Homo sapiens: one gene and its partners. Changing the gene in region 7 together with the main gene of any one other region gives a genetic interaction. Each region holds a gene or a part of one and is shown on either strand. Other genes may lie near its edges. The genes, in order: SLC25A33, ARID2, RPRD1B, FBXO41, DHX35, SLC30A9 and STK11.

Region 1 (3,500 bases), on a different chromosome or scaffold from region 7:
TTCTATAACTCAAAAAAATAAACTTACCCAAAGTAGCCTTAAGGCTCCATTAGAAATAGAGGCTGAATGATTATTATTATTATTATTATTATTATTATTTTTTTTTTTTTGAGACAGAGTCTCGCTCTGTTGCCAGGGTGGAGTGCAGTGGCTTGATCTCGGCTCACTGCAACCTCCACCTCCCGGGTTCAAGCGATTCTCCTGCCTCAGCTTCCCAAGTAGCTGGGACTACAGGCGTGCGCCACCACGCCCAGCTAATTTTTGTATTTTTAGTAGAGACGGGGTTTCACCATGTTGGCCAGGCTGGTCTCAATCCCTTGACCTCATGATCCGCCCGCCTCAGCCTCCCAAAGTGCTGGGATTACAGGCGTGAGCCACCGTGCCCCGCCGAGGCTGAGTAAGTTTGGCTCCCATATTATCATTTTGATTCAAGGAATATTAAATACAATCCAGATTTTTAGCTTCCTTGAAAACAGCAAAAGTTCAGCAACCCAGGACCTGCGTTTCTGCACAACAAGTTTTGGCTATAATCAGCTGGATTTGAGTAAGGTCGAGTTCCCACCACTCACGTGACCTCTGTCCATGCGGTTAGAGCTGTTTCCCTCATACTCACTGACCTTACCTGCAGGGATCCTGCGCCTCAATGTGCGCCTCAGAAGTCTAGATATACCCACAAACAACAAACGTGACAGCTGTTTTACTGCTCTGGAAGAACAAAAGCAAAACATACCGTGTGGATAAGCAATGCAGGAGGCACAGCCCTTAGAAAGAGCAGCAGCTGCCATAAGTCCAAAAAAACTTGTGGAATTTTTCTCAGTCCCATTTGCAGAAGAGGCTAATGGAGCTTCTTTCAGATACTTCTTTAAACTTTCATAAATAGCAAAGCAGATTATAGTTTCGGAAATTCCAGCATACGAGGCAGTTAATCCTCTATAGAAGCCACGAATGCCTTCGGTCTGGTAAACGTAACGAGCACACTGGAGTGTATTCATCTGCTTAGAGCCCCTCACTCTGCATAAAAGAGACCAACACAGGCTGTTAAGGAGACATATCATGGTGGAACACAGACATCACACAGTAGGAGAACAGGTACGGGTCTTCCTTATGGTGTTAGGATACTTGTTTCCTGGCTCCTAACTCTCATAGCCCTTGTCTTTCGTTATGTGGGGTGTGTGAGGCCGCAGGGGCAGCCTCTGACAGTCCCTTGATCTCCTTTCACCTGCCCCAAGGCCATCCTCTAATGTCCTTACCTTGTTGGTCTTACTCCATGAGAGTCCCCTCCTATCTCTGGGAGAAGGAATGCTGCTGACATGAAGCTTCCAGAAAAACCCAAGAGGACAGGGTTCAGGGAGCTTCCAGAGCTGATCGCATGGAGGCTCCTGGAGGGTGGCCCCCGGGGAGGGTATGAAAGCTCCACGCCCCTTACTCTGTACCTGGCCCTACCTGTCTCTTCTTCTGTATCCTTGCGATGTCCTCTATAACAAACCAGTAAACATTAAGTGTTTCCCTGAGTTCTGTGAGCCACTCCAGCACATTAATAGAATCCAAAGAGAGGGTCATGGGAACCCCAACTTGAAGCTGGTCGTTCAGAAGCTCTGGAGGCCCAGACATACAACTGGTGTGTGGGTAAGTGGGTGGGCGGGGGGTGGGCAGTCCTGGGGACTGAGCCCCCAATCTGTGGGGCTGTCTCCTGGTAGACAGTGTCGGAAGTGAATGAGAGGACACCCAGCTGGTGTCCGCTGTTTGGTGTGTGTGGGGAAAACCCCCTACACATTTGGTCACAGAAGTCATCTTCTGTGTCAATGACTGTTGTGGTGTGACAGTGGAGGAAAAACATGGTTTGAGGAGAGTTTTTCCCACATATCTTTGTACTGTTGTCAGCTGACCTCCAGCCCACTGTGAGGCCAGACCAAGTAGCTGGCACACCTGACAGGCCCACAGAACACTAGCTACATCTGTATCAAGAGTCATAGAAACATGTTCATAAAAACATTAGCATTTGACCTAATTTTAGAAAGAGCTGCAGGGAGCAGTAAGGCTCATCACAGAGGAACTACAACTGCAAAACAATCAGGACAACAATCCAGATAGCTGACCACGGTATATCTGCTAGATTAAGTCACAAGGCCGTGAGACACAGGGAATGCTTTCAGTGGAAAACAGGACTAAGTTAAAGGTAAAGGATGATCACAAGGGCTGGGAGCAGTGGCTCACACCTGTAATCCCAGCACTTTGGGAGGCCAAGGCGGGAGGACTGCTTGAGGCCAGGAGTTCAAGACCAGCCTGGCCAATGTAGTGAGGCTCTATCTCTACAAAAAAGTAAATAATAAGAAAGAAAAATAGGAACATTCCAACCTGTTGGTGAGGCTACTTATTAGATTTCTGATCACACTCGTCTCCAAATAGATTCTATTATTGCTAAATTTATAAAATCATAAAACATCAAAATAAAACAGCAAATGAAAACCATGAGGTTTAGAGGCTCCTACCCCAGGACAAAAAGCATTTATGAACTGCCTGGCTGCAAGGCAAGAGTGAGCCACCAGATGAGTGTAGTTAGGTGTGCACCGGTCACACATCACAGACCCCTCCGAGCGGGCGCAGACCTGGGGCCCCTTGGGCTTCAGTCTCAGCTGGCCTCTCTCCCTTCTTTATTATCTCCGCATAGACTGTTCCCGCTCCTTAGCGGCAGTGACCTTTCTAACACAAATCCAACCATGCAACTCCCGTGCTTAAAACCATCCAGAGGCCGGGTGCGGTGGCTCACACCTGTATTCCCAGCACTTTGGGAGGCTGAGGTGGGCAGATCACGAGGTCAGGAGATCGAGACCATCCTGGCTAACACGGTGAAACCCCGTCTCTACTAAAAAATACAAAAAATTAGCCGGGCATGGTGGCGGGCACTTCCCAGCTACTCGGGAGGCTGAGGCAGGAGAATGGCGTGCACCCGGGAGGCGGAGCTCGCAGTGAGCTGAGATGCACCACTGCACTCCAGCCTGGACAACAGAGTAAGACTCTGTCTCAAAACAAAACAAAACATCCAGAGTTTCTCACCCTTGGCGCTATTCACATTTGGGGCTAAACTATTCAGTTTGGGGAGAAGCAGGCTGTCATGTGCCTTGTAGGGTTTAGCAGCATCCCGGCCTCTATTCACACTAGGCACCAAAAACACTCACCTAAGTTGTGGCAACTTCAAATGTCTCCAAACTTAAATGCTGAATGTCCCCTGGAGGGCACCCCCTACCTCCATCCTCCATTTCCCCTGAGGACCACTGCTCTGATGACTTTCCACTGCCCTCAAAGCCCAACTCCAAACTCCCTTTCAGGCCTGGGAAGGATCGGGCTCCCCTGCTCCTCCAGCCTTATTCTTCCATAACTCCCTTCTCCAGCGCAGATGCACGTACTACACGCCAACTACACTCCCTGTCTTACGGCTCCCCAGAACTAACCATGCTTTCTTTTCTTTTTTCCTTTTTTCATTTTTTTGAGATGGAGTCTTA
Region 2 (3,500 bases), on a different chromosome or scaffold from region 7:
ACATCTAGCTTAACTATATCCTAAATGCCCCATTAGCCATAAAAGCTGTTTTCTAAAAACTTATCAATCTTAAATTTTCTACCCAAAAGATCACAATATTGATGTGGCTATCTATATAATGAGAGATTATAAAAGTGAGCATCATCTAGCTAAAAAAAAGGGATGCTGGGGGCTGAGAAAAATGGTAAAAATCACCCAGAACTGTGGGATGGATAAATGGACAGATATGTGATAAAGCAAGTATACTAAAATATTCATGGTAATAGCTAGGTGGCAGGTATAAAAAATTTCATTGCAAACATTTCAAATTTGCCTATGTGTGAAAAATTTTATATTAAATGTTAAAAAAAAATATCAGCCAGCATGAGATTACCCAGGAACCTTGGTGCCTTCATTAAAATAACTCCGAATAAAAGAAACTACAGGAGAAAAAAAGAGAAGATGAAGACACGTACATTTTGAATTAAAAAACACTGTAGAAAAGAAGTTTATGGAAAAGATGCAAAAATTCAAAATCAAAATTTAATGTAGGGACTGGAGTCACTTTTACTATAGTAAAGCAAAGGAAAAGAAATGAGCAAAAAATGAGACTGAAGAATAAACAGTTGGGCATCTTTTCATGTTTTTTGGGCCATTTCAGTTTTATGTAGTTTCCATATATACATACCATCACACACTCAAAAGAGTGGATAAAATTAAACATTTTAATTACAATACCAAATGTTGGCAAGTACATGGAGTAGCTGAGACTCTCATACATTTCTATAGAGTGTCAATTGATAAAATCATTTTGGAATTGGTTGGCATCATGTAGCAAACTTTTAACATCTTATGAGTCACCAATCCTTTGAAAACACTCAACAGAAATATGTTCCGTATATGGCCAAAAAACAGAATATGGTTTAGAATGTTTATAGCAGCATTACTCTTAATAGCCCCAAATTGGAAATAACCCATTTGCCCATCAAAAGCAGAGAAAAAAATACAATAATATGAATAAAATACTATCATGCAACAACATGAATCAATCTCAAAAATATAATGCTGAAAATAATATTGTATGATTTCACATATAGAAAGTTCAAAATCAGGCAAAATGAACCTCTGGTGTCACAGATCAGGATAGTGGTCCCTTATAGAGAGGAGGATGGAGTAAAGATTGGAGAGAACATGAAAGATTTCAACTGATATTGCTCTATTTCTTAACTTGGACAGATAGTTATATGAGTGGTTCAGTTTGTGATAATTCACTGAACTTTACACTTCTGTTTTATAAAATCTTTATGATTTTCTTTAAAATTTTATTTAACAACTTTTAAAATAAAGTATGAAATTTCTAAGATCTTTCTGGAAAAGAAAAATTAGTTGTACAAAAATTGATTTAAAAATTTACAAAACGCTTTGGGAGGCTGAGGCAGGCGGATCACGAGGTCAGGAGTTCGAGACCAGCCTGGCCAACATGGTGAAACCCCATCTCTACTAAAAATACAAAAAATTAGCTGGGCGTGGTGGCAGGAGCTACTTGGGAGGCTACTAATCCCAGCTACTCAGGAGGCTGAGGCAGGAGAATCGCTTGAACCCAGGAGGCAGAGGTTGCAGTGAGCCGAGACTGCACCACTACACTCCAGCCTGGGCAACAGAGCGAGACTCCATCTCAAAAAAAAAAAAAATTTACAAAATAAAAATAACTTTACAAAGTACAATCAGTTTTTCCCCACAATCAATGAATATTTTAACAAAGAAAGAAAAAAGACTTTAGTTTCAAAAAGTTAACAAAATCATATTTTTCAAAGTGATAGTCACATGTTAAAAAGTATTCTTTTATTTGAATATTGCATGGATAAAACTAGAAAGAATAAACTGAAATCACTAGGATGATTTTAAAGTAACTAATAATTTCCTTTTTGATATAAATGTTTAATTTTTTGAGGTTTTAAAAAATTAAGCACTCACTTTGTTTTGATATAAAACAAAACATGCCTAATTTGTTTTTTTATAAAATGATATTCTTTCAACTTCTAAATTCACATGTTAGTTTTTTGAGATGATTTAACAAAGAATAAATATTGGGTCACTCTAATATCCTTAACAGATAATAAAAATAATTTCTAAGCAACACTAGTAAAAACCATTTAGGATACAAATCAGCTTCTAAGAAAACAAGTTTAAACAAGTTTCTTTCCATTCCCTCCTCAAAACAGTACGAAGGGTAAAAGAAATTTATTTTTTGCTAGGCGTGGTGGCTCACGCCTGTAATCCCAGCACTTTGGGAGGCCGAGGCAGGTGGATCACTTGAGTTGAGGAGTTCAAGACCAGCTTGGGCAATATAGTGAGACACCCTCCCCCACCCCCCACCTTACAGAAAATTAAAAAATGAACTGTTGGGCATGGTGGCATATGCTTGTGGTCCCAATTACTCAGGAGGCTAAGGTGGGAGGATCACTTGAGCCCAGGAGGTTGGAGGCTGCAGTGAGCCATGATGGCCCCACTGAACTCCAGCCTGGGTAACAGAGCAAGACTCTTGTCTTGGGGGGCGGAGGATAAGCAAACCCCCAAATCCTCAGAAATTTGAGGAATTACAAGGAAAGAGTAACCATACACAGATTGGGAAAAAACTACAAAAGTAGAGGTGTTAATATCCTCAGAGAGATGAGAAGACACCACTAAGAACAGGATGTTATAAAATAGTAACAACTGGCAACCAATAACAAGCTCTTAAAAATTAAGGAAATTTCCGGCTGGGGGTGGTGGCTCATGCCTGTAATCCCAGCACTTTGGGAGGCTGAGGAGGGCGGATCACGAGGTCAGGAGATCGAGACCATCCTGGCTAACTAGGTGAAACCCTGTCTCTACTAAATATACAAAATATTAGCGGGGCATGGTGGTGGGCGCCTGTAGTCCCAGCTACTCCAGAGGATGAGGCAGGAGAATGGCGTGAACCTGGGAGGTGGAGCTTGCAGTGAGCCAAGATCGTGCCACTGCATTCCAGCCTGGGCAACGGAGCGAGACTCTGTCTCAAAAAAAAAAAAAAAAAAAAAAAAAAAAAAAAAATTAAGGAAATTTCCAAAAAATAGATTAAACAGAGAGAAAACAGAAAGCTAAAAGAGAAAAGAAAAAGAAACATACCAGAAAAGTTCCCATTACTGAAGGATATAAATCTCCAGATTGAAAGGACCCACCAAAATGAAATAATGACTTCAATGAAAACAACAACAAAACACCCACCGAAGACACATCATCATCAAGAAACCTCAGAATATTCAGAAATAAAGAGATCACAACAGTTTCTAGAGGGGGGAAAACAGATCACATACAAAGAAATGGGAACCAGAATGTCACTAGTCTTCTCAACAGCAAAGCTGGTGCTAGAATACACCAAAGCAATGCCCTCAGGTTTTTAAAGAAAAATGATTTTTCAATCTAGAATGTTATGTACAGCCAACAACTATCAAGAGTAAGGGTAGATTACAGACATTTTTAGGCATGTAGGGTCTTAAATG
Region 3 (3,500 bases), on a different chromosome or scaffold from region 7:
GATAAACCTGCACATGTAGGTTGTCGAAAATAAAGAGACAATAACAAATGTTGATGAGGATGTGGAGAAACTGGAACCCACGCACATTGCTAGTGGGGATGTAAAATGATGTAGCTGCTGTGGAAAACAGTCTGATGGTTCCTCAAAATGTTACATAGAATTACCATATGACCCAGCAATTCCACTCCTAGATTTATACATAACCAAGAGAAATGAAAAGATATGGCCACACAAAAACCTCCACATGACTGTTTATAGCAACACTATTCATAAGAGCCAAAAGGTGGCAACAACTCAAATGTCCATAGACAGGTTATAAACTGTGTCACATCCATACAACAGATTAGTGTTCTACCATAAAAGAGATGAAGTACTGATATATGCTACAACATGGGATGAATCTTGAAAACATCGTGCCGAAAGAAGCCAGACACAATTATGTTTTGGAACTTGATACAATACTGTGAACGTACTAAATGCCACCAAAATGTGTGCACTTTGAAGTGCATGGTTAATTTACGTTATATGAATTTCACCTCAACTAAAACAATAAATCTGCAGCTTGGAACAAATTTCTCAAGAGCTCTTCCCTGTGTGGCATATCATCTTTGTGTGTGTGCACCATGTGGCATGTGGGTCAACACAGGACTATCTGCTTTCAGTTCTAGATCGCTGACAGTCAGACACCATGATCTGAATAAAATTCACAGTTAAGGCCAGGCATGGAGGCGCATGCCTGTAATTCCAACACTTTGGGAGGCCAAGGCAGGTGGATCACCTGAGATCAGGAGTTCGAGACCAGCCTGCCCAACATGGCAAAACCCCATCTCTACTAAAAATACAAAAATTAGCTGGGTGTGGTGGCATGCGCCTGTAGTCCCAGCTACTCGGGAGGCTGAGGCACGAGAATCGCTTGAACCCGGGAGGCAGTGAGCTCAGATTGCTCTACTGCACTCTAGCCCTGGGCAACAGAGCAAGAGTCTGTCTCAAAAAAAAAAAAAAAAAAATCACAGTTAAGAAGGGAAAACTGCAGGTTCCTGACCTTTTTTCTTTCCTTAATACTTGTACAAATAGGTTTCTTTCTCACACACACACTCTTCCACATGCACTGATCATGCTAACAGAACATGTCTGTATCATGCTTTATTCACGCTGACAAGACAGGAACCCTATCCAACCCACTCACGCTATGTCTTATGAGCTTTGAGCAGACATCTGGGAGTAATGTAGTCACCTCTGTCAACCACAAACAAAGCTTCTCTTTGCTCTGGAAGTGAAGCTGGAAGGCTTTTCTGGTATCTTTGGCCTTTGCCTTTCTGAATGGGCTTTCTTCTATACCCTCCACATTCTCTAACCTCCTCTTTGGGCTGCCATTTGTGCTTCCTTCCACGTGCCTTCTCCATTTCTAGGTTTTCTCATGTTCATGACAAAAACATTACCCACAGATTTTCAGCAGCATTCCTTCCACCCTTGCCTGGTGTTTAAGGGCCAACATCATAGGCCAAAGTCAATCATGACACCCTGAAGCAAAAGTCAAAAACAAACAAACAAAAAAAGATGATTATCTCAGAATAAAGCATAATTCTACTTAAAGGAAAAAAGAAAAGTAGTACAAAGGAGAAAACCTACAGAAACTTCTAAAAATGGTTACCTTTCCGTACTAACATATTCTTTACAACCAATCATTAAATCAGATTTGTTAAGCCACTTTTAATGCAACCTTAAAAAAAAACCCTTTTCTCTATAGAAAAAGGTTACATCAAGTGATGGATTTCACAGAACAAGTATTTACTGAGGAACAAATATGTTCCTGGCACTGTGAGAGCACTCAAAGAGTATACAGTCTAGCAAACTTTGGGAGACCTGCTGAAGGCATTACAGTTTCAGAAACTGTCCATGATTTGATAACTCTCACAATTTTAATAAGCATCTGATCAAATTATTATTAGCATCTTCATTTTTTTCTTGGTCTATTTCAAGGTAGACACAAGTGAGAATATTTTCCTTACTGACAACCTATCTTGAATTCTACCCTAACCCCTTGTTTGCTGCTATTTCCCCCTGACTAGAGCATAAGCCCTTTGAGGGGAGAAGTGCATCGTGCCCATCTTTGTACATCTGGCTGGCACAGGCTTTGCTGACTCCCTGAATGAATACGTAGCTTCTTAAAGAGCACAGACCTTAATCTCCCACTGGTGGTCTGCAGCACCTCCTTCCCACATCTGACTTTGTCTTTCTTCAGATACCTGTCTGGTCCAGTCTAACTGCTCCCCATTTATAAACATGCTTCTCTTCTTCAACTGCTAGTTCCTTTTACAAAAAGGTTTTATTGCCTGACAGGAAGTTTGGACTTACCTTAAACCACAATCAGAACCGCCAAATGCCTCCTTAATCTACATTATGTACGATCAAGTGGTTTGGTTTTATGTTCACCTGTGTTTTTTATACCAGAATATGATTTCCTCGAGGGAAGAAACACAATCTCCTACTTTGAGCCGTAATTCCCTCTCCTACATCCTAGGCTCTGAATCATCACACGCCCTATCCTGACATGCAGGAGCCACCGACATAAAATTCCCAAGTGAAAGAGAAAAAGATGCTTATTACATAAAGCAAGATACAAAGTTAAAAAGGAAAGCACAAAACCTAAGTATATTAGAGCTTTGGGATGAAAACAGACTCGCAAGCAAATAACTACTTCTCCAAAGAGTTCTGAGAATTTCATCTATGTATATCCTGAAGGCAATGAAAGGATTAAAAAATAAAATATTTAATTAGCATTCTGATTTGGAAGTTTTAAAACGGACTGGCTGTGTTACAAAAATGAATGTTAAAAAAGTGGGTAAACTTTATGTACTGCCCCATCACGCAGAGAGACTTTTGGACAATCTGAAGGAATTCACAGTATTCACGCATCTTTCAAGGGGCATACATTTATCAAGTTCGGCCACCACCATAGGGATGTGATGGGACAGGACCAGTCTATTACAGAATGTGAGAGAAAAATCTTAGGTTCAGGAGAGCAGACTGCCTAAATTTTTAGCAAGCGTGGATAAAGAAAAGAACTAAAACCATCTCTCAAATCTTATATTGTGAAGCGGCCAGATCACTTGACGTCAGGAGTTCAAGACCAGCCTGGCCAATATGGTGAAACTCTGTCTCTGCTAAAAACAAAAAAAATTAGCCGGGCGTGGTAGTACATGCCTATAATCTATAATCCCAGCTACTCAGGAGGCTGAGACGGGGGATTGGTTGAGCCTGGGAGGTGGAGGCTGCAGTGAGCTGAGATCACGTCACTGCACTCCAACCTGAGTGACAGAGCGAGACTCCATCTCAGAAAAAAACCTTATACTGTATCTAGTCATTTGCTTTCTTTAATGCAGCAAATCGGCTCTATTTTTTACAATAAATGGTTCTGCTCATGTGCCTCGGAGACATGGTTTGAGATAAGAACCTTCAGTTCAGACTCTGTACGTTGGTTCCAGTGGTGGGGCCTTTCT
Region 4 (3,500 bases), on a different chromosome or scaffold from region 7:
CATGAGCTTTCCTGTCTGGATTTTCCCCTGGGTTCTGCAACTTCCTGTTCTTGCTGCCTTCCTAAACGTCCTCATTCCCTGAGGTCTGCCTCTGGAGCCCTCCATCTCTATTCTCCCCCTAGGAAGGCAGTCAGCTTCCCTCACACAGGTTTACTTGCACCTGTAAGCTCTACTTCTCCATCCTGACCTGCCGCATAGTTGTGTTGCCTTCTGGCATTTCCACAGGATGTATGGGTGGATGTCTGTTCCTTTTGCCAGCCCAGCATCCAGTCCTCCTCCTGGTAACAGCACCCTGCTTTGACCATAGGGAACCATCCTTCCCCACTTTCTCAGTCCACATGGTCTTGGGGATATGACATAGACCTGGCAAATCAGTCGTGGGGTAAACATAGAGCACCAAAGTTGAGCCAGTGAGCCCCAGGACTGTTCTGGAATGACTGAGGGAAAGCATTGTCTTTGGGATCAGGTTTCTAAGCTGATGGAGAAGGCCAGAGCTGCTGGTGCCATCCTTTCTCCTTTTGGGAGGAGACACCTGGGAATGAAGCCAACCCAAAGAAGCAAAACTTAGATGGAGAAACACATTCCTCACAGACACTGTTTGAGAGCCTGGCCTGTTCAGTTACACAAGCCAATCAATTCTGCACTCCCCCCCCCCCAACTTCTTTTTTTTGAGATGGAGTCTCACTCTTTCACCTGGGCTGGAGTGCAGTGGTGCAGTCTCGGCTCACTACAACCTCCCCCTCTGAAGTTCAAGCGATTCTCCTGCCTCAGCCTCCCGAGTAGCTGGGACTACAGGCATGTGCCACCACGCCCAGCTAATTGTTGTATTTTTAGTAGAGACAGGATTTCACCATGGTGGCCAGGCTACTCTCAAACTCCTGACCTCAAGTGATCCACCTGCCTCAGCCTTTGAGTGTTGGGATTACAGGTGTGAGCCACTGCACCTAGCCCCTATTTCCCTTTTTTGCTTAAGCTAGTTACAGTTGGATCTGTGTTACTTGCACCCAGAAAATATCCTAACCAAGAAATTAGAATCAGAGATGGAAATTTTTAATAGATCCACAAAAGAAATTAGCTGAACTAAGGAGGGGGACATAAGCTGGCACTACTTCCCCCATTCCCCACTCACAGGTTGGTGAACAGAGCAGCAGCAAAGCAGATGATTAAACTGTCTCCCACCATCCCTGGAGCTCAGGCCATGTACCTACCATGGCTGGAACATTAGGGGATTTGTAGAAAAATGTCAGGATGTTGGGAGTGTCTTTCCAACGGCCTCAGTAAGGTCCAACAAGCAAGAGACACACTCTGGTTGAAAGGAGCCCATCTGAAAGCAGAGAGGAAGAAAATTTGGGCTTGCCCAGAGAGGCCCTTTCTGCCTGCAGCCAGTAATTCAATATGGCTGAGAGTCAGATAATTAAGAGCCAGTTCTTTGCTTCAAGCTAAAGTCAGCTCAAGCGAAGACAAAGAGGCTGGGAACTAAGAGGGAGATAAGCCTGGGGCCTGACAGGTACTCAACTCCTTGGGCCCTGCTGAACCCTTCCTGCTGTGCCCTCCCAGCTGGACAGAAGCTTCCATTATAAGCAGCCTTCCATTGGGATGCAGCTTCAGTGAGAAGGGGCAGATGACCTTTTGCCTCCCTCCCCAAAGTTGGAGTTTGCTTTGCCCTGTGGCAGAGGCCCAGTTAGAGGCTGCAGAACCAAGGGCTCCTGGGATGGGCAGAACACTGAGGCCTGTTGCTAAGAGATAACCCCTCCCTCCTTCTACACCACCACCAGGGACTTCATTCAAGAACCATAACTTTCATAGAGGTCTCTAGCTTTGGTTAATAGCTCTGGGGATAACCAAATGCAAACTGACTGAAAAGCCTCCCAGGGATTAAGGGGATTGTATTGCCAGAAAGCCCCCACAAACCAAAGGATTGCTCAGCCCCTATGGTTGCCCTGAACCTCCCCAAACATGCACCCTTCAATGCCCCTCTCACAGAGACAGCAAAATCAGAGCAGTGAGATTGGTGTACCAGGAAACCTCTTCCTCACCATTCAGTCAAGCATGTGGACCACGGTCCAGGTTTTTTTCCTCACCCCCCTCTTCAACTAGGAGGGTTTTTCTTCTTCCAGCTATACAGTTTTCTCTCCATCATTGTAGTTGGGCCTTAAATGGAAAGACCATGACCTTAGTACCTAACCAAACAAACAGCCCCTTGCCATTGCCAAGATGTTGAATTGGGGATAGATGTGGTAACTGGGTGAAAACTTGGAATGTCTCCTCCCAGAAGTGGGATAACTGTGCTTTAAGTTTGGTGAGGGATAGTTGCATTATGATAAACAGGAAAATATTTTTTAAAATTACACAGTAAAGGGGGTCTGTGTCGATCTTTGACATCTAAGAAGTGAAATACAGTGGACTTTTATTGTTTTTGCTGCCCGGCTCTAGTCCCTCTTTATTGTGAATTGATCCCCAATTTTCCCTTTGAGAACCATTGCCTGCACTTTGAATAGATTTGGGTAGGGCTGACAGCTTCCATTGGCTCCCAGGGAACACACATGACCTCAGTCTGTTCCATTAGAATCACAGTGGTCAGGTCAGTAATGGACTCATTTCTCAGTCTGGGCCGATACAGTCACTTCGGGAGCTGTGCTCAGTTGGTAGGCTGTGAGCCTGGAGCCTCTTGTGGCCATTTTTGCCCTGTCTTTGAGACAAAAGTAAAGGACCCCTGATGATATTTGAGCATCCACATCCAGATGTGCCTGAAGCTCTAACCCAGGACTTGACCATTGAGAAGGGCTGCAAATGTTTTTGTAGCTTTTATCATTTGGGTCGGTTGCCAGTCTCTAGTAATGAGACTCCAGACTAACACAATGGCCCACAGTGTCAAAAACAAATCCCAGACTTCTCCTCACCTACTACCCAGCACCCCTGTTTCCTTTGGTGTTACTGTCCTCCCAGCCACAGCACTGGCCATCTTGATTTTTCTCTCTGCTAACCATCAAGACCTACTGGTTTTTCCTTCCAAGTGCTTTCAACCCAACTGTTCTTTTCTCATGCTTTGTACTCTTCCAGGCCACAACCTCATCACATCTAGACTGCTGGCCCAGCCTTCAGTCCCGCAGCTCCATTCCATCTGTAAAGGCATCGGATTCCTCTGCTCAGACTCCTTCAAGGGCACCCCCATCCACTACCAACTGCAGCCAAACTCCTCAGCTTCACGATCTGGCCCCTGTGCTCTTGCCAATTTGAAACTGGAAAGTGGCCTGGCTGTTTCACTTGCATGTCCTTGATTGTGATGGCTGGACAGTTTTTCACACATACACTGGCCATTTCTATCTCTTTGGTAACTTGCCTGTGCACTACTTTGCTCATTTTCATACTGAACATTCATATTTTCTTATCGATTTACAAAAGCTTTTAATATTATTGATCCTGTGTCATTTATATACCTCAAATATTTTTCTCAAGTGTGTTGATTGGCTTTTACTTTTGTTTATGGTCTTTATTGATAT
Region 5 (3,500 bases), on a different chromosome or scaffold from region 7:
TACATGGGGAGAACTCGGAGGTGTCTCTTCATCCCAGTGCGAGCTAGTGCTCGAGCCTGCTCGATGAGCATCGACACAACAGTTTCTACCTCTTCCTAAAGACGTTGAACCAGGAACCAAAGAAACCGAGATCAATTTAAAGCATGCTATTTTATCATACTGAAAGAAAATAAAAGTTGGGATCTGGACTTTAATTTTGGTCAGATTCAAGAATTTCAGTGCCGTCATGTTCCACTCTGGGATGGTATTTAATTAAATGCTAATACACAATGATGACAATGGGTGAAATTTTGCAACTACACTATTAGTTACTAAAAACTCGGTATGATCTGCAATGAATGGAAGAGTTCCCAATAAATAAAAACGATGACTATTTTACTCAGCATACATATACGGTGTCAAACAAGCATCTCATGCATATAGACAAGTTGCAGCATATAAAATCACTGTAAGCTTTCTCCAAAAAAGATTACTGAACCATGGAAAGTGTTTGGCAGTGGAAAAGATTACAGTTGGAGGGCAGGTCTGAATAGTGCTGGCCACCGTCAGCGAGCACTTGGGTCTGTTCAGTTGTTTTACCAGTAATATGGCCACTTATCACCTCCAGGATGAGCTGTAAAGGTGTCACTGGAAAAAGAGGTACACAGCAGCAACATGTGTGCAGGACATGGACCTAATGTAGTATCCAATTCTGGCAAACAAAATAGCCCTCACTCAACTACCTAGTTTATTTTGGAATCAGCTAATACATTTAAAAAAACATTTAACCCTCTGCAGACAGAACAGGCAGGGGCTAACGAGTCCCTGACAATCTAGATGGTAGATGAATGACATCAAATCAATTTTCTACACAATTATGGAACCACAAAATACAACAAAACATGAAATACATGACTGAGTAAAGTAACAAGGCTCTGTATTACTTTTGGTGCTGTCTTAACATGTCTATTCATCAGAGAAGTACAGTGGCATTACCTGGCCAGTAAGAAATGCTAAAACGTCTCCGTCTCCCTCTGTCTGGTGAATTTTCACCACAGTTTCGACAGTTGATTTGATATAATCTGGAACAGGACTGAAAAGACAAATGGGATGAATTCATCACTAGAATATGCTCATTAATTACAGATCAATTACCCTAATAATCTGGCAGCAAAGCTCATCAAAGTGAGTTTGGGCCTGCCCAGTAGGTAATTAGTACAGGATAAACAAAATAAATATTCATTTTTTTCAAATCTAATATTCAAGAATAATCCATAATTATATGTCAACTATGATTTTTAGCTTTATTTGGAAAGAAATAACATGATATACCCATACAAATAGATGTGCTATCTTTAGTATGCAAAGACATCAGACCAGTGAAAATCGGAAGCTGTGGTCCCAGTGCTGAAGCCCACGCTCTTCCCAGCCCATTTTCCCTCCTAACCAATAGCAGCATCTATGGGTCGGCTGGATGGCCCTGATGGATGAGCTCTCCAACAAAACGATTCAGAAATCAAGTCCACGACTCTGGATTTATCAGCCACTGGAACAGGCTCCTGGTCTTTTTTTGTCCAGTGACTAGTACAGGAATTAGGATGGCCCCTTCCTTGTCCAAGTAGGCTACTCCTAAAAATGCCAACTGGGCCTTCTCGCTAGGGATGTAGAGAACTGAGAGCCAAATGATTCAAATCACCAATACTGCCCCTGCTGACAGGCAGCCTTGTAAACCCCAGTTCTGAAAACTATCAAGCTTCCCTCCCCAAAACCTTTCACCACTTTTGCTCTCTCTGGCTGAGCTACTGGCCACAGACTTACGGAAACTTGCATGTCAGTGTGAACAGTTTAAACTAAATTCAGCAGTGATCCGGAGCAGGGTAAGAACATTCTAGACCAATGACTAGGGACACAAAACATGCTCCTCCCCATCCTTTAGAGTTGTGAGCAAATGCAGTTCTGACATTCTACATCAGAGGCTGAGTTTTCTAAACACCATCATCCAGAATTCAAGCATCATCAAACCTTTGTAGATAAAAGATATCCACCGGAAATGTTCTCCCTTCCACTGTAAGGATCACACATGTATCCCTTGCTGGATCACTGGTTTCATTTTGATTAAAGAAATCCCGGAATTTCTAAAAAGAAAAAAATTAATTCTTCATTTCTCTTAGAAAAAAAGGTTCGTAGCGATTCATGGAAAGAAAAAATAATATAAAACTTGCCAAAGACAGGTGAGTAGCAAGATTATATATGTGCAATACAGATTATGGGTTGCAAAATACATTTTTTAAATTCACATTTTTCTAACTGTAATTGTGGGGAATCACATTTCAATGACAGTGTCTTTACTAAAGTTTTAATAAAAATAATAAAGGTTAGATTTCAAAACTGCATTCAGCATAGCATCTGAGTTAACATGTAGCTTTAGTATTATTTATATTATTCCTATCCTCTGTATTTCATTTAAGCAAAAATTAGGTCAAAGGTGTGACTCAAGTTCAGTACAGGTTAGATGAGGTTGGTGGGTAACTCTATCTGGAAAACACAGATATGATCATTTGATAGGAAACTTTTCCTTCTGTGAACAGTAGGTGTGTTTCCGGCCCCATTGTTACTGGTTTTAGGCCACTTGATGGCAGGGATAGTGTCTTCTCCATCTTTACACGCCCTACAGTAGTGAGTGCGAGGCTTTGTATGGGGTAGGCCATCAATCATGTACTTCCCCAACACTCGTGCAGTACCCTGTTGGGAGAAGTGTCTCTTGGCAGTTTCTGCCAAACAGGTGTCCACATCCTATTTAATGGTACTTGACCACCACTTGCAGCCCACAAGGAGACCTGTCTTGAGGGCTCCAGCCAATGATGGGGGAAGGAAACGCCACCAAAGATCCTCTCTTGGGGAATGTGACCCTAAGGTACAAAGAGAAGCTGAGACTGAGAAGAGCTAAGTGACCATGCAGGCAGGCAAGTGAGCACCAGATGGGAAGCAGCTGGTGCCCACTGCAGAGGGGGCATGGATATCCCGTCGGGTGGAGTGCTCCATTATTTGAATCTGGGTGCCCTTTCCATTCCCCACCTCTACTCATTTCCCTGAGGCCTGGCTACATAACTACAAAGCTTGTCTTTATTTCCCTATGTACCTTTACAAAACATGCCCATCCTGCTCCAGGAAACCCAGGAGCCCAGGAGCTGTGCTAACGAATGGCATCAAACGCTAAGTGAAGGGGCTCTGAGGGGTACTTTTAAAAGAGTAAACTGGATTTAACCACAAAATACAGGGATGTTATATATTAACCTCAAAATTGAGAAGAATAAGCACAGACATCAAAGTGCCTCATGTCAACAAAACTATGTTTTGCTATGCAGAATTCCACACAGTACTCCTGTTCACTTTCTTTTGGGTAAATTCCCTTCAAGTTGCTTCAGCCTTCCTGCATCCCTATGACATGCACAGCACAGGTACACTAGAAGTGACATACAAACAAGTGGGAACAGACACCCCATGCCCCAAAAGAGTAAACA
Region 6 (4,168 bases), on a different chromosome or scaffold from region 7:
GATGTGCTGAAAGTGTAAAATACTCACTGGGTTTTAAAGACAGTACAAAAAGATGATGTAAAATACTTCAATAATTTTGATATTGATTACATGTTGAAATATTTTGAATATACTTAATAAAATAGTATTAAATTTTATATATTTTATTATTAAAATATATAAATTTCGTTATTAAAATTAATTCTAGGATATATTAAAATTAATTCATCTTTAATTTTACTTTTTTTAATGTGGCTATCAGACAACTCAAAATTACAAACAGGGCTCTCATATTTCTTTTAGACAGTTTCTATTTTGCCTTTAAAGGCATTCCTCATTTTTAAGTATTCAAGCAATCCCTCAAGGTTTCCTCCTCTCCTTATGCTTTATAAGCTTTTCCCAGCCACAGGCATTTTAGAAGCATAAACTAAACCTTACTTCTAGACAAATAAAAACAACTGTTTTTAGATTTTCTTTCTCCAAAAGTTCTTCAAATAGTCTTCTCACATGCATCCAATTTAAATAGTACTCTTTTTCTAAATGATTTTTAAATTTTGCCATAATAATGGTTGCCCTTTTAAGAAATGCTTCATTACTGAAACTAAATTTTCACAAAGTTATTTTTAAAAACCTACTAAGCATTTTTAAGTGTAAAAAAAATTTTAATTTTTTGTAGTAATAAACATTCCAAACAACTTTGCAAAGTCATTTTGACCACTAAGGTAGGTAATAATTATCTGTGTTTCACAGACAGATGAGACAAAGAATACATAATTTTCAACATAATGACAGCTACACAGAAGAGGGATTACAAATTACACTGTTTCTTCTCCTTTTTGCCAACACTTAAAGGGCAGTTTAGACTAAATTTAACAGCCACTGTAATTTCAGTGTAAAATGCCAAAATTGCTTGGTCAATAGAAACAATTGTGTTAGAAACTTACTTGGGGATTCTGGAGTACAGTATAAACGTATGATTCATTTTTCTTTTTCTTTTCTTTTTTTTTTTTTGAGACAGGTCTCACTCTGTCACCCAGGCTGGAGTGCACTGGCATGCTCAAGGCTCACTGCAGCCTCAATTTCCTGGGCTCAAGCGATCCTCCCACCTCAGCCTCCTGAGTACAGGCTAGGATTACAGGCGCGCGTCACCAAACCAGGCTAATTTTTTGTAGAGAGGCAGTTTTGCCATGTTGCCCGGGCTGGTCTTGGAACTCCTGGGCTGAAGCGATCCACCCACCTCAGCGTCCTAAGGTTTACAATCTTCCTGAGGATTAGCAGCATGAGCCACTGCACCCAGCCGATGATTCATTCTGTCCATAAGGGAACCTGGCAGTATATTGCCAATATGGAAAAACTCAACAGTTACACTTTTCTATCACTACCAAAAAAGCCCTGGGAATAGTGCTGTTAAAATTTATCCGTTTGAAATTCTAAGATTCAGCTTTACATTTATTGCAAATAAAAGATACGAATATATTCTAATTTATATCCACAGCATAGTTACTATAGCTTATATTACATAAAATCTCGAATGACTGCAACTTCCGACTTCTTTCAGGAGGTCACGAACATGTTACAGGTTTTTTCAAACCTATGTTTTTACAGACAGCTCACTATGTTGCCAAGGCTAGCCTAGAACTATTGGGCTCAAAAGATCTGCCTGCCTCAGTCTCCCGAGTAGCTGGACTACAGGAGCGCACCACCACACCTGGCTTCGAACATGAATGTTTCGGTAAATACTCTCTGCATCCCAAGAATGGAGGGATTAGGTTAAGGGTGGACTTAGTTCTGTCTTCTCCCTCAGAGATCCTATCAGTTCTCAGTGTCAAGCAATGTGTGTCAAGCTACGGCAAAAACGAAGGTAAGCCTGATTAGTTCAATGTTATTTTGGAAACTCTCAAACCATTTAAATTTGAGTCAGAAAAGAATGTTGAGAGAGACGAAAATTCTCTTCAACCACCTTTTTTTCTGGGTTACCACTACAACTGCCACCTTTTCACCAAAAAGACTGCTCAGCCGAACTGAAGAGTTTCTTTGTTTTTCGGACCCAAACTGGGTTCATTCAATGATTGTCGGATACTTTCGTACTTCTTCCAAAAGATCCGTAGTGAGTAGCACCCCTCCTTCCTTTTAGAAAATTTAAGAAAATAAGTTGGGAGAGTAAGAAAAAGAAGGCCAAGAAAATCTCAACCAAGTGCTAAATGAAGGTGCGCTGGAAAGCTCCAAAGACCCTGGAACTTTGCGGAGTCCGCAATTTCCAACCGCGGAGGTGAGTAACCGCGGGACACCGCGATGCGCACGTAACATTTTGTTTGGTACAAAGCGGTAGGCTTCAGAGGTGCAATCCGGCCCGCGAGGTGCCCACAAGTTCCCGCGGGGGCCATGCTAGGGCTGCAGAAGGCATCAGAGTCAGAGACCTGTCAGGACCCCCGCGGGCTGCGCAGGCTGAACTGGAAAGGCGGAGGCCAGAAAGGAAGGTTCTGAGGTTGGCGAAAGGCAAGTGGGCGAATTGCCCCAGGCGAGGCGCCGAGCCCAGCCTGGCCCTCCAGTTCGGCTTCTACGGAGCCAGCGGCCAGCGCGGGACACTCACCCTGGCGGTCGCTGGGATTACAGGCCGCCGCCCTGCATCGCAGACGGAGCCGGCACAGGGAGGACCAGCTACATCTGTGGGCCGCGGCGGCGGCCAAGCCGGGTAACATCCTGGTGGGGCAGAGGCCCCTACTCGGACACCGCCTTCTGCCTCCGCGCCGCCACCGGTACCAACTGACTCCATAGACTGGACATCAGCGAACACCGATGGCTTCGCCGCCACAAGCTGCCTGGGTGACCCGGAAACGGCAACGTCATTTAGCGACGCCTGCCGTGGAGGTAGCGGAAGTGACGTAACACGTTGAGCACCAATAGGGAGGCCTTCCTTCCCGGGGACCCAGACTCCCAAAGTGGGGAGGGCGTGGCTGCAGGGGAAGTTTGGTGTCTGCCGTCTTCTTTTGCACCTGTACTTTTGCGCTTGGTTGGAAATCACGTAAACTGTTTACATCTTGTTCAGCCAGGAAAGCTGTCCTTTGGGAGTTCTACTTATTCCTTTTTTTCTGGACTCGAAACCGGGGCCGTGGTTTCGGAAATGGGAGGAAAGATGGGAAGGATGGACGCAGGTTTTCTGAGCCTCTCTACCTAGAGCCTGCCAGGATAAACCCAAATTAGAACCAACATGTCCAGTACTCTCCGAACGTCTGCCACGTACATCGTTCTCCTTGTTAACACCAGTGTGTATCCAGTATCATAAAGGCAAGTACACACTTCGGAATCAGCTACTTGCCCTACTAATCTGTGAACCTCAGATTTTTGCCTGCAATATAAGAGGTTTTATGTTCATGACAAGTTAGGGTAAACGGAGGTATGCAGACTTCGAAACATTTTGGTCCCAGGGAGAAAGAAACCTGAACAGTATCCACGTTAACTGTTTCTCTCTGCCATGCTCATTCAGCTCTTAACTCAAACTCAAGAGAGGCCTTCCTTGACCACCCTAGCTATGGTAGTCCTGGTCATTCTCTACCCGGCTGTCCTATATACTTTTCTTCAAAACGCTTATCACTATTTGAGATTTTTTTTTCTATTTTGTGTCCTAGAATAGAAAATAAGCATCATGATGCTGGAATCTTGTCTATTTTGTACATGGCTGTATAAAGCCGCTAAAACAATGCCTGGCAAAAATAAATTGAATGGAATGTATGGTGGTTTGTTTTAAAGTTAATCTGAGTCGCTTATCTATATTACTGCAAAATAACTATCTCGGGGAAATTTAGTATGTCCTTAATTTTTAAAAAAATCAACAAGTCTCTTATACTAATTGAGATAAGTATAACCAAATGAGGAAAGAGATTATCGTTAAGAATGGTAAGCAAATTTAATTTCCTATGACAAACATAACTTAAAATATTCAGTGGACAAACATTAAAAAATGATGTCCCATAAATGTAGGCTCAATATTACTAAAAAATCTGAATATTACTGGAAAGTTACTTTCCCTTTCTTGTAATAGATTTTAATAGAAATTCAACTTTATGAAGTAAAAATACATAAAGGCTTACCTCTTATTTTATGGTAACTATGCAAACATCTATTAACTTTTATGGATAATTCTTTTTGAACAAAACTAATCTCATATTTTGGATTCTTAAAATGGCTTTGG
Region 7 (3,500 bases):
TCCACCCTGAGGCCTGTGTCCCAGGTGGCACTCAGAAGCCAGCACCCACCAGATGGATGCTGGCTGCAAAGCCAGCAAAGGCCAGAAGGGGGTCTGGGGGGCCCTGAGCACATCCCAGCCCAGGAGGCTATCGGGGGGCAGCCCCAGTCCCCGCCAGGCGCCCAGATGACCCGAGCTGTGCAGAGACCCCCAAGGCACAATCAGCACCAGCGCCTCAGGGGTCCGGACACTCCCACTCCCAGAGCCGGTCTCAGTGGGTGGCCTCGGGGCTCGGAGGGGCTCCAGCAGACGGCTCAAGGGCCTCCAGGGGCTGGTGCAGAGGAGCAGAGCCCACGAAGTGAGGGAGGCGGCACTGTGGGGCCTGCTGACCCCGTCCGCTGCTCTGTCTTCCCTGTCATGGAGCTGGGGGCCCTGGGCTGGATCCCAGCCACACCCTGCTGCTGGGAGCCCCAGGAGGAGGGGAAAAAGAGAGGCTCTCGCCAGTGTTTGGGACCAGCTGTGCCCTTCCTGGCGCATCTCCATGCCTAGGGCAGGGACGGACGCATGTCCTCACTCAGACCCCAGTTCGGACAAGGCGCCTGGGTCTGGCCGGTAACAGGACACTGCCCAGAGACCCCACTCGGGCCCCGAGAACTGCGGGCGCTGCACGGGGTCTGGCCCCAGCCCAGCCTGGCACCCCCACCACGCCCTGCTCTAGCGCCCGCTCAACCAGCTGCCCACATGGCCGGCCTCCCTGCAGCCTCGGCCCCACTGCCCCCAGGGGCCGCTCACCTGTGCTGCCGGATCTGCCGGATGGAGAACCTCTTGGCCGGTTCGTACTCAAGCATCCCTGAGGAGAAGCCGGCGAGGAGCCTGTCAGCTGGGCACAGGCCTGAGACCCCACCAACCGTCCCCGCCTGCCCAGCCTCTGTTGTCAGGCCCTGGGTGATACCTGGACGCTCCTAAGGGGGACCCCGCGCACAGGCGGTCTCCCTGACAGAGGCCACTCCACTCCTGGGACATGCCGGGGACAGCCTGTGCGCGGCTGGCAGGGAGACAGGGCTGGGCTGGACGGCCAGGGCGGTTCCGTTCTCCCAAGGCCACTGGGCAGATGGACGGACGGCCAGTGCCACCTGCTGCCATGCGTAGGAAGTGCAGCAGGACAACCCTGACAGACCCTGCAAGCCAGGGAGCCCCCGAGGGTGGGGCTGGGGGAGGCGCAGGGCAGCACTGCCCTCTGGGGTGGGAGTTCGGAGGGTGAACAGGGCCCAGAAGCAGGGTGGAGCTGAGGGACCTGGCAAACCAGGCCCTGCGGGGAGGTCGGCCTCTCCACTCAGTCCTCTCAATGCCTGCTGGGGTCTCGGGGCCAATAGCCCCCCACCTGACACCCCCAACCCTACATTTCTGCACAAAAGCCCCGCCTCCCTGGGGCTGCGGGCAGAGGGATGAGGCTCCCACCTTTCAGCAGGTCAGAGAGCGGGGGGCCACAGTCGCCCGGGATGGCGTAGCTCCCCTTCCCGATGTTCTCAAACAACTTGTAGATGTTGTCCCCTTCGAAGGGGTACAGACCCGTGGTGATGTTGTAGCTTCATTTCGAGGGGAGGGAAGAAAGGCGTGGTCAGTCAAGGTGGTTGACGCCCTAGGAGCCCCAGCTCTACCCCAGGGACAGAGGCGTCCCGTGGCTGCTGGACCAGAGGCCCTGTGGACTCAAGGACACCTCTGTCTTCACCACCTTCCACTAGTGGAGGCTACGGGGTAGGAGGGGAGTGTCCTCTGGACCCACCCGGGGAAGGGGCCTGGAGCTGCTGTCACCCGCCCAGCTTCCCTGTGGGGCTCTGGGAGGAGGGTCGGCCGTGCCACTCTGTGAAGATCCCTGACGGGCCAGGCTGCACTTCACACGGGTGAACCACCATCTGCCGTATGAGTTACATTTCCATAAAGTAAGCACCCCCTAGCGGCTGTGGCCAGAGAGGGTCTGGGCCGGTGGCCACGCCCTGCGCCCACAGGCCGGCAGCTGCCCAAGACGCAGAGGCCCCTCGGAGTGTGCGTGTGGTGAGTGCCCGGGGGGGCGGGGCACTTACAGGGTGACCCCAGCCGACCAGATGTCCACCTTGAAGCCGGAGAAGGTGTCCAGGCCGTTGGCAATCTCGGGCGGCTGGAAAGCCGGGGAGCCCTGGCTGGTCCGGCAGGTGTCGTCCGCCGCGAACGGGTGCAGTGCCTGTGGCGGTGCCGTGCAGCCCTCAGGGAGTGCCCGGGAGGGGGCGCCCCAGGGCCCCCCCTAGCACGTGCCTACCTCGGCCACGCCCAGGTCGGAGATTTTGAGGGTGCCACCGGTGGTGAGCAGCAGGTTCCCCGGCTTGATGTCCTTGTGCACAATGCCCTGGCTATGCAGGTACTCCAGGCCGTCAATCAGCTGACAGAAGTACCTGCGGGCAGCACACACCCGTCCTGGGGCCGAGGCCTCCCTGCCCCTCACAGGGGTCCCCTTTGCAGCTGCCTGGGAGCCTCCCAAACACCACAGGCCCAGCTGGGAAGTCACAGAAGTCCAGGCACACAGGACAGAGGAAAGGCTAGGTCCAGCAGGGAGCCACACCTGCGCCTGCAGTGGCCACCCTCGTCCGGCCGAGCCACGTCTGGCAGGGCCCCGGATGTCCACAGGTCTCATTTTCCTGTGGGCCACAGGCCGGCTGCACCCCAAAGTCTTGCTGGAACAGCAGGCCCCTCCCTGCCCCTGTGGTCCTGCAGCAGCAAGGGGCCCTGACTCTGAGGCCACAGACCTGCATCCAGGAGATCTGGTCAGGGCAGGCGGCTGCCAGCGATGGGCTGGAAGCAGGCCACTGGCCTCAGGCAGCAGGCCCAGCAAAGATGGAGGCGGGAGGTTGGCAGCAGCCCTGCCTGTGGATGCCACACATGGGGGACCCCAAAACTGTTTTTAAAAACTTGGGCCTTTACAAGGCCGGGCGTGGTAGCTCATGCCTGTAATCCCAGCACTTTGGGAGGCTGAGGCAGGCGGATCACGAGGTCAGGAGTTTGAGACCATCCTGGCTAACACGGTGAAACCCCGTCTCTACTAAAAATACAAAAAATTAGCCGGGCGTGGTGGCGGGCGCCTGTAATCCCAGCTACTCGGGAAGCTGAGGCAGAAGAATGGCGTGAACCTCGGAGGCGGAGCTTGCAGTGAGCCGAGATCGCACCATTGCACTCCAGCCTGGGCGACAGAGTGAGACTCCATCTCGAAAAAAAACACAAAAAAACAAAAAAACAAAAAAACTTGGGCCTTCATGTCAATGAATATCAGGACAAGCAGTGTGGCCTCACGGAAAGGAGCCTGCCCTGCCTGGCCCCCGGCCCCCGCCCCACCCTGGCCCCTGCCCCGCGCACGCACCCGTGGGCCTGGCACACTGGGAAACGCTTCTCCGGCACGCTGTCCAGCATTTCCTGCATGCCACACACGCAGTACTCCATCACCATATACGTGGGGCGCTAAGGACACACAGCTCAGGGGGCGGCCCCACTCACAG

Evidence for each region.
Region 1: changes in STK11 (region 7) and SLC25A33 together harm fitness more than expected from each alone (negative genetic interaction), as found in Homo sapiens cells (one large-scale study listed by BioGRID).
Region 2: changes in STK11 (region 7) and ARID2 together harm fitness more than expected from each alone (negative genetic interaction), as found in Homo sapiens cells (one large-scale study listed by BioGRID).
Region 3: changes in STK11 (region 7) and RPRD1B together harm fitness more than expected from each alone (negative genetic interaction), as found in Homo sapiens cells (one large-scale study listed by BioGRID).
Region 4: changes in STK11 (region 7) and FBXO41 together harm fitness more than expected from each alone (negative genetic interaction), as found in Homo sapiens cells (one large-scale study listed by BioGRID).
Region 5: changes in STK11 (region 7) and DHX35 together harm fitness more than expected from each alone (negative genetic interaction), as found in Homo sapiens cells (one large-scale study listed by BioGRID).
Region 6: changes in STK11 (region 7) and SLC30A9 together harm fitness more than expected from each alone (negative genetic interaction), as found in Homo sapiens cells (one large-scale study listed by BioGRID).

Annotation. Positions count from the first base shown.
Region 1 is NC_000001.11:9,577,465-9,580,964, reverse strand, and holds part of SLC25A33 (solute carrier family 25 member 33), read right to left. Parts: intron 1,012-3,500; coding exon 731-1,011; intron 1-730. UniProt on the Homo sapiens protein: Mitochondrial transporter that imports/exports pyrimidine nucleotides into and from mitochondria. Selectively transports uridine, thymidine, guanosine, cytosine and inosine (deoxy)nucleoside di- and triphosphates by an antiport mechanism.
Region 2 is NC_000012.12:45,900,706-45,904,205, reverse strand, and holds part of ARID2 (AT-rich interactive domain-containing protein 2), read right to left. Parts: intron 1-3,500. UniProt on the Homo sapiens protein: Involved in transcriptional activation and repression of select genes by chromatin remodeling (alteration of DNA-nucleosome topology). Required for the stability of the SWI/SNF chromatin remodeling complex SWI/SNF-B (PBAF).
Region 3 is NC_000020.11:38,068,246-38,071,745, reverse strand, and holds part of RPRD1B (regulation of nuclear pre-mRNA domain-containing protein 1B), read right to left. Parts: intron 1-3,500. UniProt on the Homo sapiens protein: Interacts with phosphorylated C-terminal heptapeptide repeat domain (CTD) of the largest RNA polymerase II subunit POLR2A, and participates in dephosphorylation of the CTD by RPAP2. Transcriptional regulator which enhances expression of CCND1.
Region 4 is NC_000002.12:73,270,979-73,274,478, forward strand, and holds part of FBXO41 (F-box only protein 41), read right to left. Parts: intron 2,152-3,500; exon of another isoform or gene 2,037-2,151; intron 1,325-2,036; exon of another isoform or gene 1,209-1,324; intron 533-1,208; exon of another isoform or gene 1-532. UniProt on the Homo sapiens protein: Substrate-recognition component of the SCF (SKP1-CUL1-F-box protein)-type E3 ubiquitin ligase complex.
Region 5 is NC_000020.11:39,000,344-39,003,843, reverse strand, and holds part of DHX35 (probable ATP-dependent RNA helicase DHX35), read right to left. Parts: intron 2,115-3,500; coding exon 2,002-2,114; intron 1,073-2,001; coding exon 976-1,072; intron 96-975; coding exon 1-95. UniProt on the Homo sapiens protein: May be involved in pre-mRNA splicing.
Region 6 is NC_000004.12:41,989,162-41,993,329, reverse strand, and holds the start of SLC30A9 (proton-coupled zinc antiporter SLC30A9, mitochondrial), read right to left. Parts: upstream 2,801-4,168; 5' UTR 2,679-2,800; coding exon 2,570-2,678; intron 1-2,569. UniProt on the Homo sapiens protein: Mitochondrial proton-coupled zinc ion antiporter mediating the export of zinc from the mitochondria and involved in zinc homeostasis, zinc mobilization as well as mitochondrial morphology and health.
Region 7 is NC_000019.10:1,219,278-1,222,777, reverse strand, and holds part of STK11 (serine/threonine-protein kinase STK11), read right to left. Parts: intron 3,455-3,500; coding exon 3,365-3,454; intron 2,406-3,364; coding exon 2,273-2,405; intron 2,198-2,272; coding exon 2,061-2,197; intron 1,566-2,060; coding exon 1,438-1,565; intron 830-1,437; coding exon 772-829; intron 1-771. UniProt on the Homo sapiens protein: Tumor suppressor serine/threonine-protein kinase that controls the activity of AMP-activated protein kinase (AMPK) family members, thereby playing a role in various processes such as cell metabolism, cell polarity, apoptosis and DNA damage response.